3 linked regions of the Homo sapiens genome follow. The protein of the gene in region 3 interacts with the protein of the main gene of each other region in a biochemical or structural test. Each region holds a gene or a part of one and is shown on either strand. Other genes may lie near its edges.

Region 1 (7,036 bases), on a different chromosome or scaffold from region 3:
GGCTAAGGTGGGAGGATCGCTTGAAACCCAGGAGGTGGAGGTTGTAGTGAGCTGAGATTGTGCCATTGCACTCCAGCCCGTGCGACAGAGTGAGACCTTGTCTCAAAAAAGCAAAAACAAAAACTATTAGAGATACGTCTTTGGCCGGGCACGGTAGCTCAAGCCTGTAATCCCAGCACTTTGGGAGGCCGAGGTGGGCGGTTCACCTGAGGTCAGGAGTTTGAGACCAGTCTGGCCAATATGGCGAAACCTCGTCTCTACTAAAAATAGAAAAATTAGCTGGGCACGCCTGTAATCCTAGCTATTCAGGAGGTTGAGGCAGGAGAATCGCTTGAACTTGGGAGGTGGAGGTTGCAGTGAGCCAAGATTGTACCATTGCACTCCAGCTTGGGTGACAGAGGGAAACTGTCTTTTTTTGTTTGTTTGTTTTTAAAGGAGATACATCTTCATCTGTTCCTGCTTTGACCCTTTGCCTGGACCATGGCAGTGTCCTTTCAGGCTGTACGTCCCTCCATCCTGCCCTCCTGTGCCTCTGCTTACACTGGGCTCTTAAGGAAACTCCTGCTCCTTGTCTCATCATCCCTAGGGATGGTTCTGTCTTATCATTTCTAGAATTGGATGCCTTGCCATCTTGTTTGCTCCTTAACTCTGCATACAGGGCTGTGTAAATAATTCCTTCATGAAAATCTCTATTTCAATCTTCTGGGATGAGTTTTTTCCTTCTGGGACCCTGACTGATAGAGACTGATAATACACCCGTATGAAAATATGTCTGCCAGGTGCGGTGGCTCATGCCTGTAATCTCAGCACTTTGGGAGGCCGAGGCAGGCGGATCACCTGAGGTCAGGAGCTCGAGACCAGCCTGGCCAACATGGCAAAACCCTGTCTCTACTAAAAGTACAAAAATTAGCCGGGCGTGGTGGTGGGCGCCTGTAATCCCAGCTACTCAGGATGCTGAGGCAGGAGAATCACTTGAACCCGGAAGGCGGAAGTTGCAGTGAGCTGAGATTGTGTCACTGCACTCCAGCCTGGGCGACAAGAGCAAGGCTCTGTCTTGAAAAAAAAAGAAAAAAAGTCAGAAATAATTTGCAAAGCATGTTAGAAAATTCTAGATTTCCTGAATAGCAATTTAATTGAGATTGGCCAAGAAATATTACATAGGGTTGATACTCTTTTATTCTAAGATAGTCCTTTCTGAGCATGGGGTCTATAATTTTTTTTTCCTCCACCTTACTGCTGCCCCACCTTTTAACTTTCACTTAGTGGACCTTTGCCCCAAGATTTTCTCTCAGCTTTTCCTAGGTAAGACAGCATCACCCGGGCGCGATGGCTCATGCCTGTAATCCCAGAACTTTGGGAGGCCAAGGCAGGCGGATTGCCTGAAGTCAGGAGTTCGAGACCAGTCTGGCCAATATGGTGAAACCCTGTCTCTACTAAAAATACAAAAAAATTAGCCAAGGATGGTGGGGGGCGCCTGTAATCCTAGCTACTCGGGAGGCTGAGGCAGGGGAATTGTTTGAATCAAGGGAGGTGGAAGTTGCAGTGAGCCAATATCGTGCCACTGCACTCCAGCCTGGGTAACAGAGTGAGACTCCGTCTCAAAAAGGAAAAAAAAGACAGCATCTTACATTCAGGTATTTATAAACAACTTTTATTATTTATTTGTTTTTATTTTATATTGGCTCACTGCAGCCTCCACCTCCTGGGTTCAAGTGATTCTCCTGCGTCAGCCTCCCAAGTAGCTGGAACTACACGTGCCTGCTACCATGCCGAGGTAATTTTTTTTTTTTTTTTTTTTTTGAGAAGGAGTTTTCGCCCTTTTTGCAAAGGTTGGAGTGCAGTGGTGCGATCTCGGCTCACTGCAACCTCCTCCTCCTGGGTTCAAGCGATTCTCCTGCCTCAGCTTGTCGAGTAGGTGGGATTACAGTCACGCTCCACCACACTGACTAATTTCGTATTTTTAATAGAGACGAGGTTTCTCCTTGTTAGCCAGGTTGGTCTCAAACGCCTGACCTCAGGTTATCCACCTGCCTTAGCCTCTCAAAAAGTACTGGGATTACAGGCATGAGCCACTACGCCTGGCAATTTTTTGTATTTTTAATAGAGACAGGGTTTCACCATGTTGACCAGGTTGGTTTCGAACTCCTGACCTTAGGCGATCTGCCCGCCTTGGCCTCCCAAAGTGCTGGGATTATGGGCGTGAGCCATCGTCCCTGGCCTAAACAACAGTTTTATTATTTTATTTTTTATTTTTTTATTGCTTATTACTATTTTTTGAGATGGAGTCTCGCTCTGTCACCCAGGCCGGGGTGCAGTGGCATGATATGGGCTCATGGCAACCTCTGCCTCCTGGGTTCAAGCAGTTCTCCTGCTTTGGCCTCCCAAAGTGATGGAATTACAGGCCCGAGCCACTGCGCCCGGCCACAACTATTTTAATAGTGTTGTTTTGGTGTTGGTTGATTAAAGGAATGGGAACGAATGACTTGAAGCCCTCTCTGTTTCACTCTTTATACAAAGTGGAGTCCAGATTGGGCTAGTGGCCTGTCTAGCCCAATGTCTGACTTGGACATACATTACTGTCCAGGAGTTTCTTAGCTGAATGTGAAAAATGCCTTCCGTGACATCATCCTTACAGGAACATTCTTTACATTTATTCTTTACTTCTGTTGAACGGTGGTGGCGTGAACCATGAATTTGTTTAAGCTTTTCAGCTGTTTTGTGTGTTTTCCTCTCAAGGCATGGGGTTTCATATTTTTGACCTGTGGTAAAGGTATTTGAATTCTGCACTGGCCTCCAAATGTAGGTGTAGTATATGGCTCTGATCTTTGTTGATGATTTTATACATAATGTGGTTTTTTTTCTTGATAAGCCAAAAAAATTATACATAATGTGTGTGTGTGTGTGTGTTTTAATTTCAAATGATAGTTACAGTAAAAGTTTGGAGTTGGGCTAAGTGGGAGGAGCATCAGGAAGCCATTTTTAGAAACCTTAAATTCACCCTTTATAACTTTCTGTCTTTTTGCATTAGTCATCTGATACCTTAGTACTGCCTACTTTTTCACATCTCCATCACTACGTAGCTCTTAAAATTGTAGTCTTCCTTGAAAGGAGATGTTTTTGTCAAGAGTCTTTGCCACCAAGGCAGGATTGCATGTGATCAGTAGGAATATTTTCCTGCAATGTCTTAATATGAAAAATTTCAAACAGACTAGTGGAAAGCATTGTACAGTCAACATGCACATACCCATGGCCTGGATTCTATGACAGTATTTTGCTCTACTTGTTCATTTTGCTGTATTTGCTTTATCATGTCTTCCTGTTATCAGAGGGAACCTTTTAAGAGGATTTATAGAGGAGTTGATTTTGTTTTTTGTTTTGTTTTGTTTTGCTCTTTTTGAGGTGGAGTCTTGCTCTGTTGCCCAGGCTGGAGTGCAATGGCATGATCTCTGCTCACTGCAATCTCCGCATCCCAGGTTCAGGCGATTCTCCTGCCTCAGCCTCCTGAGTAGCTGGGCTTACAGGCACCCACCACCATGCCTGGCTAATTTTTGTATTCTTAGTTGAGACAGGTTTCACCATCTTGGCCAGGCTGGTCTGGAACTCCTGACCTCAGGTGATCCACCTGCCTCGGCCTCCCAAAGTGATGGGATTACAGGCGTCAGCCACCATGCCCGGCCTGATTTTGAAAAAGAATAGGGACTGTGTGCAGTTACATATAAATTCTTATTTTTGAACTCTTGTGTGTTCAGCTGGCTTGTATCAACTACACCAGGGTTAGCCTTGATTCTGGAAGGGTGGATTCAGACTTCAGCTCAGTTGTACATAGTGTCTTCAGCCTAAGTGAGAAACTTTATGCACTATCTTAATTTTTTGAAGCTTCTAGTGGTAATAATTGCTGGCTTTTTTTTTTTTTTTTTGGTAGAAACAGAGTCTTGCTCTGTCGCCAGGCTGGAGTGCAGTGGCACGAAATCAGCTCACTGCAACCTCTGCCTCCCAGGTTCAAGCAATTCTCCTGCCTCAGCCTCCTGAGTAGCTGAGATTACAGGCGTGTGCCACCACACCCAGCTAATTTCTTTTGTATTTTAGTAGAGACGGGGTTTCACTGTGCTGCCCAGGCTGGTCTTGAACTCCTAAGGTCAGACAGTCCGCCCACCTTGCCCTCCTAAAGTGCTAGGATTACAGGCATGAGCCACCGTGCCTGGCTTATGGCTAGCTTTCTTTACATTGATTGTGAAGTCAGATATTGGTAGTAGAACATCATAATTTTAGATTGGGTTTTGTGTTTATTTAGCACTGCACTACTCTAGTGGTGTATTTTTCTGGACAGATTTTATCTGCATAGTTAACGCAGTTATATATAAGGCCTACCGTTACAGAATCCCCATACCTTGTTTGTCAGTGTAAATCGAGGACCTTCATGCGAGGTCTTTAATTTATTCAATAAGTAGGAATATATATTTGACAGTTACTAAATTCTACTGCCTTGTCCTTAAGATCTACATACTTTTTTTTGTTTTTTGAGTCAGAGAGTCTCGCTCTGTTGCTCAGGCTGGAGTGCAGTGATGCGATCTCAGCTCACTGCAACCTCTACCCCGTGGCCTCAAGCGATACTTCTGCCTCAGCCTCCTGAGTAGCTGGGATTACAGGCGCCTGCCACCACACTCAGCTAATTTTTTGTATTTTTAATAGAGATGCAGTTTCGCTGTGTTGGTCAGTCTGGTCTCGAACTCCTGGCCTGAAGTGATCCACCCGCCTTGGCCTCTTGCTGGGATTACAGGGAAGAGCCACTGCGCCTGGCCAAGATCTACTCACTTTTAGACAGCAATATATGCTCTGTATTTTGGTTTGCAATTGTAATTGTCATTGGAAGAGTTTGGCTTTTCTGTCCTGAGATCAACGTGTCTTTAAAAGAAGGCAGTGCAGAAAGTTGTTATTTTTTGAGCTTCTTGGATCTTTTATTTTTTTAACGTGAGGAAATTCCTAGCGTTTCTAGATTTGTTGATTGTGCTTTTAAGTTTTGGTTTATAGATTTCAGGAAGTAACACTAAAGTTTACCCTACTCTCCTCAAAAAGTAAGTAAAAAGTTCTCTTGGCTGGGCGTGGTGGCTCACGCCTGTAACCCCAGCACTTTGGGAGGCCGATGGGGTGGATCTCCTGAGGTCAGGAATTCGAGACCAGTCTGGCCAACATGGCAAAACCCTGTCTCTACTGAAAATACAACAACAAAAAAAAATTAGCTGGATGTGGTGGTGCTTACGTGTAGTCCCAGCTACTTGGGAGGCTGAGGCAGGAGAATTGTTCGAACCCAGCAGGCAGAGGTTGTGGTAAGCCAGGATTGCACCATTGGGCTCCAGCCTGGAAGACAGAGCCAAGACTCCGTCTTAAAGTTCTCTTAATGGAAAAATGAAGAACATAATAGCAACATAAGTTATTTGCTTTCATTGTGGTTATTTCTACAGGACAGGGCAGGGGAAGCACAGATAGGTTAAAAAAAATTGTAGCATCATGAGCTAGGGGGAAATCCAATGTAGAAATGGCATGAACTTTCTTCCAGCCGACTCATGTTCGTTTCCTAGAGTGATGACATTGCTCGATGATTGAAAAGAGGTTGAACTGAGCAGTTAATTATATAAAGTTAGAAATTCCAAAGAAGTAGTAACTACCAGAAATTCTCCAGCAGTATCAGTCAAGACTTGTGGCCAAATACGGCTTCCATTCTTCATGAGGGAAAGGCCATGGAAAGGCTGTCACATTGCCCAGTGCAGATGTTGACTTGGTTTGTGGAAGCGCAGCGTGGACAAGGAATGAATATACACTAATAGGAGTGGAATAACCTTTTTCTTTTACCTATTTGAATAAATTAAGTAAAAGTTTTAATCAGAAGACTTAAAGAGGAGTCGATTTTATCTTTTGATTGCACTAAGCTTAAATATAAGGTTGCACTTTAAGAATTCTGTAGTTTAATAATCATATTCTTATAAGACATAGATTTGTAACAAATAGTGATTGGTAATAAAATTTCAGTCAGTATCAGATTATGCCAGTACCTTGAATTTCTTCCCGGTTGAGCCTTTCTCAGCTAAAGATGTCATTCAGGAAAGGAAGTTTAGAGGATTTTAGACACAGCTGGTTGCCTTTATATTAGTAGTTTTGTTCCTCATATACATAGAGACTTAGGACAGAATAGTAAAAGAAGTGATAATGACATTTTATCATAACAGTCAAAACCTTCATAGCAGCTTATCCTTGACACTGAGTGGCAACTATTGTTAAGGTTTTTACACAACCTTTATCTTTTTTTTTTTTTTTTTTTTTTTTTTTTTTTTTTTGAGACGGAGTTTTGCTCTTGTTGCCCAGGCTGGAGTGCAATGGCGCAATCTCGGCTCACTGCAACTTCCGCCTCCCGGGTTCAAGCGACTCTCCTGCTTCAGCCTCCCGAGTAGCTGGGATTACAGGCATGCACGCCCGGCTAATTTTGTATTTTTAGTAGAGAGGGGTTTCTCCATGTTGGTCAGGCTCTTCTCGAATTCCTGACCTCAGGTGATCCGCCCGCCTTGGCCTCCCAAAGTGCTGGGATTACATGTGTGAGCCACCGAGCCCAGCCAACCTTTATCATTTTTAAAAAGGTCCCTTAGAGCCTTAGGCTCCACTTTCTTCCTCAGCTGCCACATCCAAACCATGGGTAAGCGATGCTTGATCTGCCTCCAAGTTCAAGCAGTCCAGGAAACAGCCCACTTATGTTCACTGTCCAGTCCCCATTCTTGGTCCAGGCCACCATGGATGGCTCCTGGACTGTAGCAACAGCTTCCATGTGTGTCTGCCTTGACTGAGTCCCTGGCGTCCTCAGGCTTCCTGCCACACTGCAGTTGGAGGCTTCTTCTAAAATCCAGTGCTTTCTGGGCAATTTAAAACCTGTGACTTTCCAAGTAGGATCTAGTCCCCATGTCCTTAACAAGAAGAGGTAACGTATTTCCCTATGCCACTGCCCACTTATTTTTTTATTGTTGAGATGGGATCGTGCTTTGTCACCTAGGCT
Region 2 (7,036 bases), on a different chromosome or scaffold from region 3:
GTGTTTGCTGCTTACTATTATTATTTGAGTGCTTTTAGATTTAACCAGTAATTGATTGATCTTAGGGATCAGGGTTGTTAATCTTTAATGCTGTATTAGTTAGTATGGGTGCTTCTTAGTGCATAAAAGGGAAAGGAGAAGGAAAAAGGAGATATAAAAGGAAGTTGAATAAAGAAGGATAAATATGGCTGGCTGCGGTGGCTCATGCATGTAATCCCAGCACTCTGGGACTTTGGGAGGCCGAGGTGAGTGGATTGCTTGAGTCCAGGAATTCAAGACCAGCCTGGGTAACAGTGAGACCCGTCTCTTAAAAAAACAAAAACCAAACAAAAACCCAGCCGGGCATGGTGGCATGCGTCTGTGGTTCCAGCTACTTGGGAGGCCAAGGTGGGAGGATTGCTTGAGTCTGGGAGGTGGAGGTTGCAGTGAGCTGAGGTTGTGCCACTGCACTCCAGCCTGGGTGACGGGAGTAAAACCCTGTCTAAAAAAAAGAAAAATATACTGCAGATAATTTTGATGAGGAGCGGGAGAGTGTATATTTCATGTGAGTTACTCACACTAATGTAGTTTCATGTTCTTTTGTTTCGTGATTTTTGCATCCAATCAACAACTCACAGTGTGTCAGTCTAGAAGTGCTCAGTGCTAGAAGTATAGTGGTGCATGAGGTAGTATAGGTTCATTTACAGGGATGTTAATAGGCATTTATAAATTGTTATGATTAATTGTTGTGAATGGTGCTATAGGAGCATGGTGGCATCTGACCAAGAGTTAGGTGGTTCTGTATTTTTATGTTTAATTATAACCCCTTTAGGATTATAATTTAAATTAATTTAAATATAAATCTTAAAATTTAGGTACATATTGGGTGGTGTTTCTTTTTATTCTTTCAGAAAACTGTTAAAGTATTTCATTGAATCTAAGATTCCAATTTCATAGAAGTCAAAATGTGGGGGAAAAATGGCTGATAATGATTCTAAGAGACTCAAAGATACATTCTGACTTTAGAGATGTTAACATGAAAAAAAGCATCTCAAATTAATGACTCTTTGGTACTTGTAATTGATAGCTTCTTAAAATGGAGGAGGACTCTAGTAAGAGAAGCTATAGTATCTGTTTATAAGTCAGTATGCTTTAGAGCAATCTGACTTTTTCATTATAAAAATGTAGGTTTTGGACTAGGCATTCTGGTGCTAAAACAGCTGCTGAGGCCAGCGATCACCCTGTTCTTTGTTCAGTTCCTCACGTTACTCATATAATTACCGTGTGATCGTGTGGTGCTCTGCTGCTTGTTGGTCAGAGCCTGAGTAAGGCTGAATAAGGCTGGATCATGAACCATTCTTTAAAGCAGTGGCCTTTGTATTGCAGTCTAGTTGACATACATGCATACATACAGGTGTGTGTGCACGTGTAACTGAAGAACAGCTTTCACAAAATAATATTTAGCACACTGTGGAATTTTCTCTGATACAGCCTCTTCTCTTTCATGATAAAAATAAATTCGCTGATTATCACACCACTTTGGACCTTTTAAAAATAACACTTAAGAAGTTGGAATAGCCAGGGATCAGAAACTTAGAAATGGACCTTATTTGTTATTGTAACTTATAGCAAGTCATTGTGTCTCTTATTGGGTTCTTTTAGCCATAATAATTGTGCTAGTTCTTTTCTTGCTCTGAGTGCCTGAACCTGTTGCTAAGTGAGGAAGAAAAATCCATATGTAAGTATAAATAAACAAATGTCTTTAATCTTTTTGCAGGTCATCATCAGATTTGAAATATTTAAAGTGGATACAAAACTATTTCAGCAATGCAGACAATTAAGTGTGTTGTTGTGGGCGATGGTGCTGTTGGTAAAACATGTCTCCTGATATCCTACACAACAAACAAATTTCCATCGGAATATGTACCGACTGTAAGTATAAAGGCTTCCTTCTGTTAGTAAAATGTTGTAAAATTTGATATCCTTTTGAAAACGCTTTCTCTATGTGTACTGAATTTTTTTCTGTTGTCTGCCTTTGTTTCCTGTTTTTAAAGATCTTGACTTCTCATGGGTAAATTATATACACTTTAAACAGCTGAAAAATCAGTGGAAAGTCAGAAGGGGTGACACAGGGTTTGCAAGAAGTGCTGGGAGGCAAAACTCCAGTAGACAAGATTCTAACGAGTGGTGGTCTCAATTTGGTGAAGTATGCCCTACATCTTGGAATGAGGTGACTTTTTTTTTTTTTTTTTTGATATTTTGGCCAATTATTGATCAGTACTTGGAGGTCTCCTGGGATACCATTTGAGGTCCTGTAACTTGAGAGAAAGTAGTATGTGTCTCCACTTTTCTTGTGGAGCTGTTCGCTTAGCAGTAATGGAGCTCCAAACTGGTTCTTAGGGGCAGAGAAGAGAAGACCTGTTATGTTTCGAGAACACCAACAGAGTCCTTTGGGGGTCACTCCCACAACTGTTCTTTTCTTTTTTTCTTTTTTTTTTTTTTTTTGAGATGGAGTCTCTATCGTCCATTCTATCTGGAGTGCAGTAGCGCGATCTCGGCTTGCTGCACCCTCCGCCTCCCGGGTTCAAGCAGTTCTCCTGCCTCAGCCTCCTGAGTAGCTGGGATTACAGGCGCCCGCCACCACGCCTTTCTAATTTTTGTATTTTTAGTAGAAACGGGGTTTTACCATGTTGGCCAGGCTGGTCTTGAACTCCTGACCTCAAATGATCCACCTGCCTCAGCCTCCCAAAGTGCTGGGATTACAGGCGTGAGCCACCATGCCTGGCCCCATAACTGTTTTTTAAATCAACTCTTTGGAATGGTAGAAGGAAGATGGGAATAACAAAAATATTGAAGTGAGAGAGAGACAAGAGTTAGAGTAACACTCATTTGTGAAAGGTAGTGAGACCCTGTCTCAAAAATAAGGAAAGTTTTTTTTTTGAAGGGGGGAGAATTTGAAGGTATTATTAAACACTAAAATCATATTGATATTTTGAATTGGCTCATTTGGAGACAAGATAAATGGAAGACGTTTTGAGGTTCAGTGGACTTACAGGGGACATTTAGAGGTACATGAATCTTGTTTCAGAGTGAGGACAGCTATCAGAATTTTTCTGTTTCAGTCTCCATTGAAGTTATTTACTTGTAAACATAATTTCTGAGTCTTTTATGACTTTGATCTTCTGGTGTTATATTTTAAGTGGGCTTGTGGGTGTTTTATATGTATGTTTGTGTTGTACATCTCTGGAAAAGTGATAGAGTGGAAGGAAGAGTAGTAGTAGAATAAAATTTTAAATGAACCGATTTAGGTAAATGAATGGACCATGAGGCACAAGTAATGTTCTCATGGTACCTGTTGAAGTTAATATGGAAATGGATTTGGTGTAGAATGCATTTAAGTTCCCATCTATGAGTTGGGGCTTGCCATTTCTAGAGTAATAGAAATTCAGAGCTGGATGGGACAATATATATTGTCTTACCCATCTCTTAATGGATGAGGGTACTCAGGCCCAATTTAGGGATGAGACTTAGAAGTCTAAGTTTAATTACTTAGCGTAATTACACTAGCATAAGTAGACTTTGGAATGGAAGCCAGCTTTTCTGATTCTTAGTCTAGTTTTGGATATGAACAATCTAGTAAAGGAGGGTTGTTTTTGAGTCTCTTAAGTGTGATTTAAGAAAATAATCTGTTTGGTTTGAGAGCTTAACCACATTCATTCAATTTCTTTGTTCCTGTTTTTAAGAACCGACTTTCCTTTAACTGTCATCTCCCTCATGCCCTTGCTTCTCTTCTTTACATTTAAATAAGCTCTGGAACAATCTGTTAAAACATAAGTCAGAAAATCAGAGTAGGTACCTAAAAGTTAAGTAGGGCTGGTCTTAAAATGTGGCATTCTTCTCCTAGTTGGAAAGCTTTGCTTTTCTTTTTATAGATATCATTTAATTTTAAAATTTTTACTGTAAATTGACAGATTATAGTTGTATATGAAAGCATTGCTTTTCAATTGTAAATTAATTCTAAAGACTCCAGAATTTGTGTTGGGTCTTTTCCCATTTAGCATTGTTAAACCTCCCATTTTCACAAATAACTTCGTACAACCGATATTAGCATATGCTTTACTGAATTTGATAAGGGTTTTATGGTCTATTTACATATTAAGCATCTTGTTAAAGAAGATGTCTTAGATCATGCAGTTTGTGCCCAATAACATGAATTTTACTCATAAAATTCCCAGCTGGCTGGGTGCAGTGGCTCACACCTGTAATTCCAGGACTTTGGGAGGCCGAGGCAGGTGGATCATGAGGTCAGGAGTTTGAGACCAGCCTGGCCAACATAGTGAAACTCTGTCTCTACTAAAAATACAAAAATTAGCTGGGTGTGGTGGCATGCACCTGTAGTCCCAGCTACTCAGGAGGCTGAGGTGGGAGAATCGCTTGATCCCAGGAGGCAGAGGTTGCAGTGAGCCGAGACCATGCCATTGCACTCCAGCCTGGATGACGCAGTGAGACTCTGTCTCAAAAAAAAACTTCCCAGCAAATAATCTGCCAGCTTTTTCTTGGACACTTTGAGTACTTTGAGGGAACCGTTATTTCTCTCAAATGGGCTTGTTTATAACAAGGCTCATCTTTTCTAGGACTCTGAAAGGAAGAAAGGTCATGGATCTAGGATATTTTATTTCTAGATGAAAAGGAAATGGTCTATGAAGAAGTAGTTTCTTAGGAATCAGATTGAATGTTGAGGTAGACCACTGTCTGAAAAGTTTCAAACTTGAACAGGTTCATTTTGTGTAGCTAGAGGACTCTGCTCCTGTGACACCTCTAAACCTTCTCTGGCTCTTTATCCAGGCTGCTGGGGTAGAGCAGAAATCTCAGAACACATCCTTTGTCTTTTTCCAGGAATCATTTAGCTCATGCAAGGACTGGTTGGCAAGATTGGTTATATAAGGATGATGGATGGACTAGGGGACGATTAAGTCTTAGCAAGGAAACACTGCCTTAGCTTAAGAGTTGTCCTGTCCCATTTTAACTCTCTCCTTGCACACTAACAGTGTTGTATTTTTTTGTTTTTAGGTTTTTGACAACTATGCAGTCACAGTTATGATTGGTGGAGAACCATATACTCTTGGACTTTTTGATACTGCAGGTGAAAACTTAATGTCTTTTATACTGTTTTGATCTTTAACAGTTGCTAGTTGTCTGTCTCTTGTGGACATTTTGAGAAACTAGCACATGAGCAAAGTACTTGCCTTTTGTTATTAGTTAGCAGGATTGAATATAATGATTGTCGATGCTTGACCAAGGAGCAGTCCCAGACCTGGGTCGGCAAATAGGAGTTTGGAGTACCCTGGGTGAACAGTGTAGTAGATGAAGTAGAGTGAGACTAGAGTGCATCATACAAGCTCCAAATTGAACTAAAATCCTGATGCGTGCACCTTGCAGAGAACTGGGGACTGCATTAGTGGTTGGGGAGGGACTAAGGGAATGAATTCATAGGAATCATGCCCACTGATTCTCTCCCTTCACCCCTACCTGCTCCTTTTTAAAGCCTAGAGTTTCCTAAATATGCCTAAGGTTATAAGGTCATAAGCCATTTACAGTATTTATTATTATTACTCTCTTGATATTTGAAGGCATATTCAATTTATGTGTCTAATAACATGTTTAGTTTCTTACGATAGATAGCTTATTTTAAACTGTATCTGAAAATATTTTGAGAGTGAACTATTATCTGCTCACAGTATTGACATTTGTCAGCTATCCAAATTGTAAGAACAAATTACTTTCTTCCTTAAATGTACCTAATTCCTCAGTGCTATTTCTTGTTTTCAAGAGTGGCTGCACATCTTAATTTCTGACTTTTCTCTATGTGCCGTCTTATTATCAGCTCAGTTAGCCAGAGGAAAATCTCAGAAAGATATCCTTTAGAGTATCTTTAGAATGTAGGAATTCTAAACTTTGTGCTTTGAGTTACTGTTACTGTTTGCAAGTTAACATGTTGCTTCCATGGAATGTGGTGTTACACTGTGTACCACGAGGAACTATTTGGATTTAATTGAGAACGTGAAATGGAGAGACAGTAAAGATTAGAGAAATTTTTAATACATTAAAATCATAAAAGTAATGGTATATTAAATTTGGAATATAGAGAAAACAATGACCCATAATGTCATGATAAATGAGGGGTTTTCTTCTGTGTTCATTTGTGTCCAAAGGCACAGAGAAAATTTTTATTTTTTTTTTTTGTTGAGATGGAGTTTTGCTGTTGTTGCCCAGGCTGGAGTGCAATGGTGCAATCTCGGCTCACCGCAACCTCCGCCTCCCAGGTTCAAGCGATTCTTCTGCCTCAGCCTTCTGAGTAGCTGGGATTACAGGCATGCGCCACCATACCCGGCTAATTTTTTTGTATTTTAGTAGAGGTAGGGTTTCTCCATGTTGGTCAGGCTGGTCTCGAACTTCTGACCTCAGGTGATCCGCCCGCCTTGGCCTCCCAAAGTGCTGGGATTACAGGTGTGAACCACTGCGCCTGGCGAGAAAAGATAATTTATGGCTACTTGTGGTTGAAAATTAGTATTTTCAGATTTCAAAGTTTATTATTTATAAGCCTTTACATTTTCTGGCGAGTACTTTTGAAAGCTTTTTTGATGCGTAGTGCAATAAAAATCATTTTAAGGCCAGGCGCGGTGGCTCACGCCTGTAATTGCAGCACTTTGGGAGGCTGAGACAGGCAGTTCACCTGAGGTCAGGAGTTTGAGACCAGCCTGGCCAGTATGGTGAAACCCCATCTCTACTAAAAATACAAAAATTAGCCCAGTGTAGTGGTGTATGCCTGTTAAGTCCCAGCTACTTGGGAGGCTGAGACAGGAAAATTGCTTGAACCCAGGGGGCGGAGGTTGCAGTGAGCCGAGATTCTGCCACTGCCCTCCAGCCTGGCTGACAGAGTGAGACTCCGTCTTTAAAAAAAAAAAAATCGTTTTAAGTGTTCAGTGTGATGCATTTTGCTGACCCTCCACCATAATAAAATGTGTAACATTTTTATCACCCCTCAAATTTTCTGTGG
Region 3 (7,036 bases):
AAGTGTTCAGCAAACTTGGAATAGAAGAGAATGCCCTTTAGCCTCATAAAGGACATCTTTTAAAAACCTACCATTGGCATTAAACTTAAGGGTAAAAAGAATGACAGTTTTTCCTCTTAGATCAGGAAAAATAAAATTTCTCTTCATCCACTTTTATTCAACAATGTACTGAAGGGTCTAGCTAATGTAGTAAGGCAAAAAAAAATTTTTTTTAAGAAAACGAATAAAAGGAATCCAGATTGGAAAGAAGTAAACTTGATTTTATTCACCGACAACATGATTGAATTTTTGTAGCAAAATTGTATATTTACAAAAATACTAGTGGAAGTAAGTGTAATAAGGTTTCAGGATATAAGATTAGTATTCAAGAAACAACTGTGTTTCTTTATGGCTGCAATGAATGATTAAAAAGGGAATTTTAAAACTGCCATTTGCAATAGTATCAAAACCAGGAAATACCGAGGCAGAAATCTGATGAAACAGTGTGCGCTCTGCACTGATAACTACTGCTCTGTTTCTAAGTGTCCCCCAGAGTTCATGTGTTAGAAACTGAAGCCCCAGTAAGAGAGTGTTGAGACATGGGACCTTCAAGAGGCGACGCGAGTGCTCACGGATGGACTCATGTCTTTATTGTGGATGCGAGTTGCTTATAAAAGCCAGTTTGGCCCTCTCCTGCTCTCTTTCTTGCAATGTGATGCCTTCGGCTACGTTATGACACAACAAGAAGGACCCTCACCAGGTGTGGCTTCTTGGTCCTTGACCTGGAGGACTTTCCAGCCTCCAGGAGAACTGTGAGCCAAATGAACTTTTATTTTTTTGAGGCAGTCTCACGCTGTGACTCAGGCTGGGGAGTGCAGTGACACAATCTCGGCTCACTGCAGCCTCCACCTCCTGGGTTCAAGCAATTCTTGTGCCGCTATACTCGGCTGAAGTTTGCATTTTAGATACAGTGTTTTGCCATGTTGGCCAGATGGGTCTTGAACTCCTGGCCTTATGTGATCTGCCCACCTCAGTCTCCCAAAGTGCCAGGATTACAGGCATGAGCTACTGCTCGCAGCCAGCTTCTAATGTTTATATTAATCAATTGCATAGGCAGTGGTATTCTGATAAAGCGTACCGAACGGATGAAGACAACTGCAAACACTGCTGAGAGAAATTTTTAAAGACCTAAATAAATGAAAAGATTTGCTGTTTTCATGGATCAGAAAACTCGGTGTTGTTAAGAAATCAAGAAATAAATTCTCAGCCAGGTGCAGTGGCTCATGTCTGTAATCCCAGCACTTTGGCAAGCCAAAGCAGATGGATCGCTTGAGGCCAGGAGTTTGAGACCAGCCTGGCCAACATGGTGAAACCCCATCTCTACCAGAAATTATAAAAATCAGCCTGGTATGATGGTGCATGCCTGTAATCCCAGCTCCTCAGGAGGCTGAGGTAGGAGAATTGCTTGAACCCGGGAGGCAGAGGTTGCAGTGAGCTGAGATCACGCCACTGCACTCCAGCCTGGGCGACAGAATGAGACTCCCTGTTAAAAAAGAAAAAGAAAGAAAGAAAGAAATTCTCCTTAAAATTCATCTGTATGTACATTCATTCCAATTCTAGTCAGAATTCCAACAGGCTTTCTGTAGAAATTAATAAGCTTATTCTAAAATTAATAGGGAAATGCAGAGGACCTCGATTACCCAAACAGCTTTGACAAAAGAAAAAGAAGACTTATGTGACATAGTTTCAATGCGTATTACAAAATGGCAATAAAATAATCAAGGCAGTCTGATAGTGGCATAAAGGCAGACAAACAGATAATTGCAACAGAGCAGAGCCTTCAGAGATAGACTCACACGTGTACAGACAATTGACTTTCAACAGTGGCTCCAAACAGGAACCAAAATGGCGCTGGCCTTCTAAATGGCAACACTGGAAATGCTGAGGGTTCCAACTTATATATATATAAAATTAGTGAAGAACTATCACTAAAGGGATAAATCAAGAGGAAAACGTAAGATCCAGAAAATAGATTCCAGCACATACAGGGCAGGAGTGAAGGGATGTCATGGACGGTAACTGCAGGAAGCGTAGGCATGAGCTACTGCAGATTAGAGCAGGAGGAGCTGAGAGGGAGGGGGTAGGGGGAAGGAACTGATGTGTTGGAGTTCACAGAGAACATTATTGATAGGTGTGTGGCAGAAATGTTGCAGAAATAATTTACAATCGGACCATAGAAAAACTGCATAGTTTTAAAATGTGGCAATTAGTAACTCCACTAAAAAAGGATTATGCTTGCACAAAAAAGGAGAGGTGGTTTTGTCAACTACTTGTCTTGACAGTGTGTATTATCTGCGGAGTCACAGTAATGCAAATCTGACTTCCTGATGAATGTAGCTGAGTGGAAATGGGGTTTGCTGTGTTTGCTGTCCACATTGCTCAGCATCTGAGATGTAGCCCTTTGTGAGAGAGCTGGTGCCCGAAGGGGGTGTCTCTTCTGCCTGTGCTCTGTTACTCAGGCCTGCCGTTGGTCACTCCATGTGCCTCCTCAGTGTTTGGTTGTGTCCAGCCCTACTCTATGGCAGGACAGTCTGCTTTACTTCATTTACTAGTTTCCTATCAGCCAGTTTTTAGGGGAAATCTTTTCTAGAATAACTTTGATTCTAGTGTGTTTTCTAGAATAACTTTGATCCTAATATGTTTTAGGAAAAATATAAACATAATATGCCGGGCATGCGGTGGCTCACATCTGTAATCTCAGCACTTTGGGAGGCCAAGGCAGGTGGATCAGGAGTTTGAGACCAGCCTGATCAACATGATGAAACCCTGTCTCTACTAAAAATACAAAAATTAGCCGGGCATGGTGGTGGGCACCTGTAATCCCAGCTACTTGGGAGACTGAGGCAGGAGGATGGCTTGAACCCGGGAAGCAGAGGTTGCAGTCAGCTGAGATTGCACCACTGCACTCCAGCCTGGGCAACAAGAGCGAAACTCCATTTAAAAAAACAAAAGACAAAAAATAAAATTATAAGTGCCTTTACTAGTCTTGTTTAAATAGGCTGATTCTTTCTCTTTTTTTCTAATGCCCCCTAGGAAGTAAAAAGAAAGAAAAGGAACGGCCAGAAATTTCTCCTCCATCTGATTTTGAGCACACCATCCATGTTGGCTTTGATGCTGTTACTGGAGAATTCACTGTAAGTTAACCTAGTTCGGGCCCATTTATAACGTTTAAAATAGCACTCAAACATTTTCCTTCATTATTAAATTTGAAATTAACATTTCAGGCCAGGTGCGGTGGCACACGCCTGTAATCCCAGCACTTTGGGAGGCCAAGGCTGGCAGATCATTTGAGGTCAGGAGTTCGAGACCAGTGTGGCCAACATGGTGAAACCCCATCCCTACTAAAAATACAAGAAAATTAGCCAAGCGTGGGGGTGTATGCCTGTAATTCCAACTACTCAGGAGGCTGAGGCAGGGGAATCATTTGAACCTCGGAGATGGAGGTTGCAGTGAACAGAGACTGTGCCATTGCACTCCAGCCTGGGCAAGAAGAGTGAAACTCCGTCTCAAAAAAAGGGAAATTAACATTTCTATCTATACGTTAACTATGAATTCTTACTGCTTTTTGCTTTTTATAAAAGTGTTAGTGGTTGGATATATCGTTTTCCTAGAGAGCAGAGCCTATTAATTATAGTTATGCAAAACAGACTTAGAAAAAATAGACCTAGGCCGGGCGCGGTGGCTCACGCCTGTGTAATCCCAGCACTTTGGGAGGCCGAGGCGGGTGGATCACGAGGTCAGGAGATTGAAACTATCCTGGCTAACATGGTGAAACCCCGTCTCTACTAAAAATACAAAAAATTAGCCAGGCGTGGTGGCGGGCACCTGTAGTCCCAGCCACTCTGGAGGCTGAGGCAGGAGAATGGCCTGAACCCGGGAGGTGGAGCTTGCAGTGAGCCGAGATCTCGCACGACTGCACTCCAGCCTGGGTGACAGAGTGAGACTCTGTCTCAAAAAAAGAAAAAAGAAAAAATAGACCTTTAGAAAATGAGATCTTTTAAAATTTACTCAAACCTACACTCAAAAGATTGGTTTGTTTTGTGTATTTTGTCATTTATCTCTGGAAATTAATTTTATTGCATCAATTTAAACCATAACTAATTTCTGAATATCTTCTTGTTAGGGCATGCCAGAACAGTGGGCTCGATTACTACAGACCTCCAATATCACCAAACTAGAGCAAAAGAAGAATCCTCAGGCTGTGCTGGATGTCCTAAAGTTCTACGACTCCAACACAGTGAAGCAGAAATATCTGAGCTTTACTCCTCCTGGTAAGAGAGTGGCATAAGGCTGGATCAGATGGAGATTTGTGAAGCACTTCTAGATAAAAAGATTACTCCTGGAAAAATGAAAAGCTAAACTATGGTTCTTGTTGATAACGGTTTTTCCCTGGATAGATTCTACCTTTTGTAGACTGATCCAGGGCAGTTCTGAAGCATAATTTGGATCTGTGAATTATAGTAATCTCATAGGTTTGCCAGAAACGGGAGTTGATGGATATTTTGGCTTTTTGTTTATTTGGTTTTTTCTCCTCATTGCTGTGTTTTTGTTTTCATTTTTCACTCTTCACTGCTTTTAAATGACTTCCAGCAATCAAAGGAAAAGACGCTGGTTGATAGACATGTTCATACTAGAAACACATTTATTGTTAGCGGGACAAGAGGAGGTTGAACTAAAAAATGTTTAGGTCCACTCAAAAAATTGAAACTCGCAAGTGTGCAGATAATAGAATATATGTATTTTAATATATAAAACAGATAAATCATATACGAAAGAAGCGTTAGAACTAAAAGGATTTATACCTCAGAAATGGAATATCTGGAATATCATCTACATAGTCACAGTAATGCAAATTTTACTTTCTGGATGAATATAGCTGGATGGAAATGGGGTTTGATGTACTTTGTTTTCCAAGTTGCTCAGTATCTGAGATATACCGTTAACCTATGAGAGAACCAGTGAATTGGTATATAGTGTAAGAGTTGGTGTAGTGGATTTTTAAAAATAGTTTTTGTTCAAATAAAGATCAGAATAAAGTTCATACAACGCAGTTGGTTGATACATCTCTTGAATCTCTTTTGATCTTTAGGCTTCCCCTCCCACACACTGGTTCATGCTGTCTTTTCTTGACGTTTATTTATTACAGAAACAAGATCATTTGTCCTGTTTCCCTCAGTTTAGATTTTGCTCACTACATCCTCAGGATGTCATTTTTCAATATGTTTGTCTGTCTCTGAAGTCATACATGTGGTTTTCAAAAGCAATATGATGGAGCTAAAATCGTACATGTGGTTTTAATTGATTTTACTTACTGTTTGCATCCTCACAGAAACAAAGGCCATGTGCAAGGGAGAAATAGAAATCTTTTTCAAGTGATCTTGACCTTTTTTTGTTGAGTCTAGTACACCGTTAGGAAAAGGTCACACTTGCTCCTAGAACTTTTCTATCAACCAGTAAGTCTGTGTGTAAATTAGTAATTTTTTTGAAAAACCAATGTTTGACCACAAAATGGTAGCTTATTTTCACCTAGTACACATACATACATATATGTGTGTGCGCACGCGCGTGCGTGTGTGTGTTTTGTTTTGTTTTTGAGCTGGAGTTTACTCTGTTGCCCAGGCTGGAGTGCAGTGGCACAATCTCGGCTTGCCAGAACCCCCGCCTCCCGGGTTCAAGCAATTCTCCTGCCTCAGCCTCCTGAGTAGCTGAGATTACAAGCATGCGCCGCCACACCTGGCTAATTTTGTATTTTTAGTAGAGACTGGGTTTCTCCATGTTGGTCAGGCTGGTCTTGAACTCCCAACCTCAGGTGATCTGCCTGTCTCTCGGCCTCCCAAAGTGCTAGGATTACAGGCATGAGCCACCGCGCCCGGCCTGTGCGTATGTAATATGTGATATGTGTGTGTGTGTGTGATATATATATATATATATACACATATATATATATATATACACACACACATATACACACACACACACATATATGTATGTCTCTGGGCATTTTTAAAAGAAAAACAAAACAATGTCAGAATTTTACTTTGCACAATTGTCATTGTCTTAATTGTTGCATTAAGTTCCTCAGTCAGCAGTTTTCTGGAGAAAGTATCTTTATCAATAAATTTGTTTTGTTTTAATAAATACAGATTGATAGGTATACTTTCAAACTAAATTTTGATAGCTTTATTGAGGTATAATTTACATGCAATACAATTCACCCATTTTAAATATATAATTCACTGATTTTTACTAAATTTATAGTTTCATGTAGATTTCAGATTTCTTACCTTGGTCTTATATAAATTCTTATTTGACTACTTGCGTGTTCATTTTTCTCAAGAGTTAATTCAACTTGAAATCAGTTTAAGAACATTTCACTTTCTCTGCTTTTTTTTTTTCCTTTTATCATATAAAAGTGCTGTTTCTTGAATTGCTAATGTTATGTTTTGTTTCATATTCAGAGAAAGATGGCTTTCCTTCTGGAACACCAGCAGTAAGTTAATTATATTATTTCTTGTATCTCTTGTTCTAATTTAGGTTACCCAAGACAAATCTCAGTTTTTATTTTGCTTTCTAAAATAAATTACAGCCATCAGAGGTAAATAACTACTCAATAGGTGTTTTTAGCTAGCCACCTGATTAGTTGAAGAAGCCGTATTAAATAGAAATTCCTTGATGTGATACTTAATGTAACTAAAATTTATAATGACCTTCAGAACAGTTTAGTTAGTTTTGGTAATGTTAACATATACAAACGTGAACACAAAGAACTTGCTAGCATATATTTTCCTCTCCATCCCTCAGTTTTCCTTCTGGTACTATTTTACTGAATATAGACTGTGGAAAGGTGCTGAACAGTTGAACCTTGTCAGTCTTCAGAGTCATCTGAAACTTAAGTTATCGCATAAACACAGTCAGTTTTTGGAAACAGTCGTTTTATTTGCAGTTTCTCAATTGGGAGGAAACAGTCTCCTGGAGTTTTATTTTTTTATATTTTATT

Evidence for each region. The genes of interacting proteins can lie anywhere in the genome.
Region 1: the proteins of PAK2 (region 3) and RAC1 form a complex in vitro, tested with the Homo sapiens proteins (2 studies listed by BioGRID and IntAct).
Region 2: the proteins of PAK2 (region 3) and CDC42 form a complex in vitro, tested with the Homo sapiens proteins (4 studies listed by BioGRID, with this or other methods).

The regions. Positions count from the first base shown.
Region 1 is NC_000007.14:6,377,491-6,384,526, forward strand, and holds part of RAC1 (ras-related C3 botulinum toxin substrate 1), read left to right. Parts: intron 1-7,036. UniProt on the Homo sapiens protein: Plasma membrane-associated small GTPase which cycles between active GTP-bound and inactive GDP-bound states.
Region 2 is NC_000001.11:22,076,673-22,083,708, forward strand, and holds part of CDC42 (cell division control protein 42 homolog isoform 1 precursor), read left to right. Parts: intron 1-1,756; 5' UTR 1,757-1,806; coding exon 1,807-1,911; intron 1,912-5,049; coding exon 5,050-5,122; intron 5,123-7,036. UniProt on the Homo sapiens protein: Plasma membrane-associated small GTPase which cycles between an active GTP-bound and an inactive GDP-bound state. In active state binds to a variety of effector proteins to regulate cellular responses. Involved in epithelial cell polarization processes.
Region 3 is NC_000003.12:196,798,855-196,805,890, forward strand, and holds part of PAK2 (serine/threonine-protein kinase PAK 2), read left to right. Parts: intron 1-3,072; coding exon 3,073-3,173; intron 3,174-4,162; coding exon 4,163-4,310; intron 4,311-6,497; coding exon 6,498-6,529; intron 6,530-7,036. UniProt on the Homo sapiens protein: Serine/threonine protein kinase that plays a role in a variety of different signaling pathways including cytoskeleton regulation, cell motility, cell cycle progression, apoptosis or proliferation.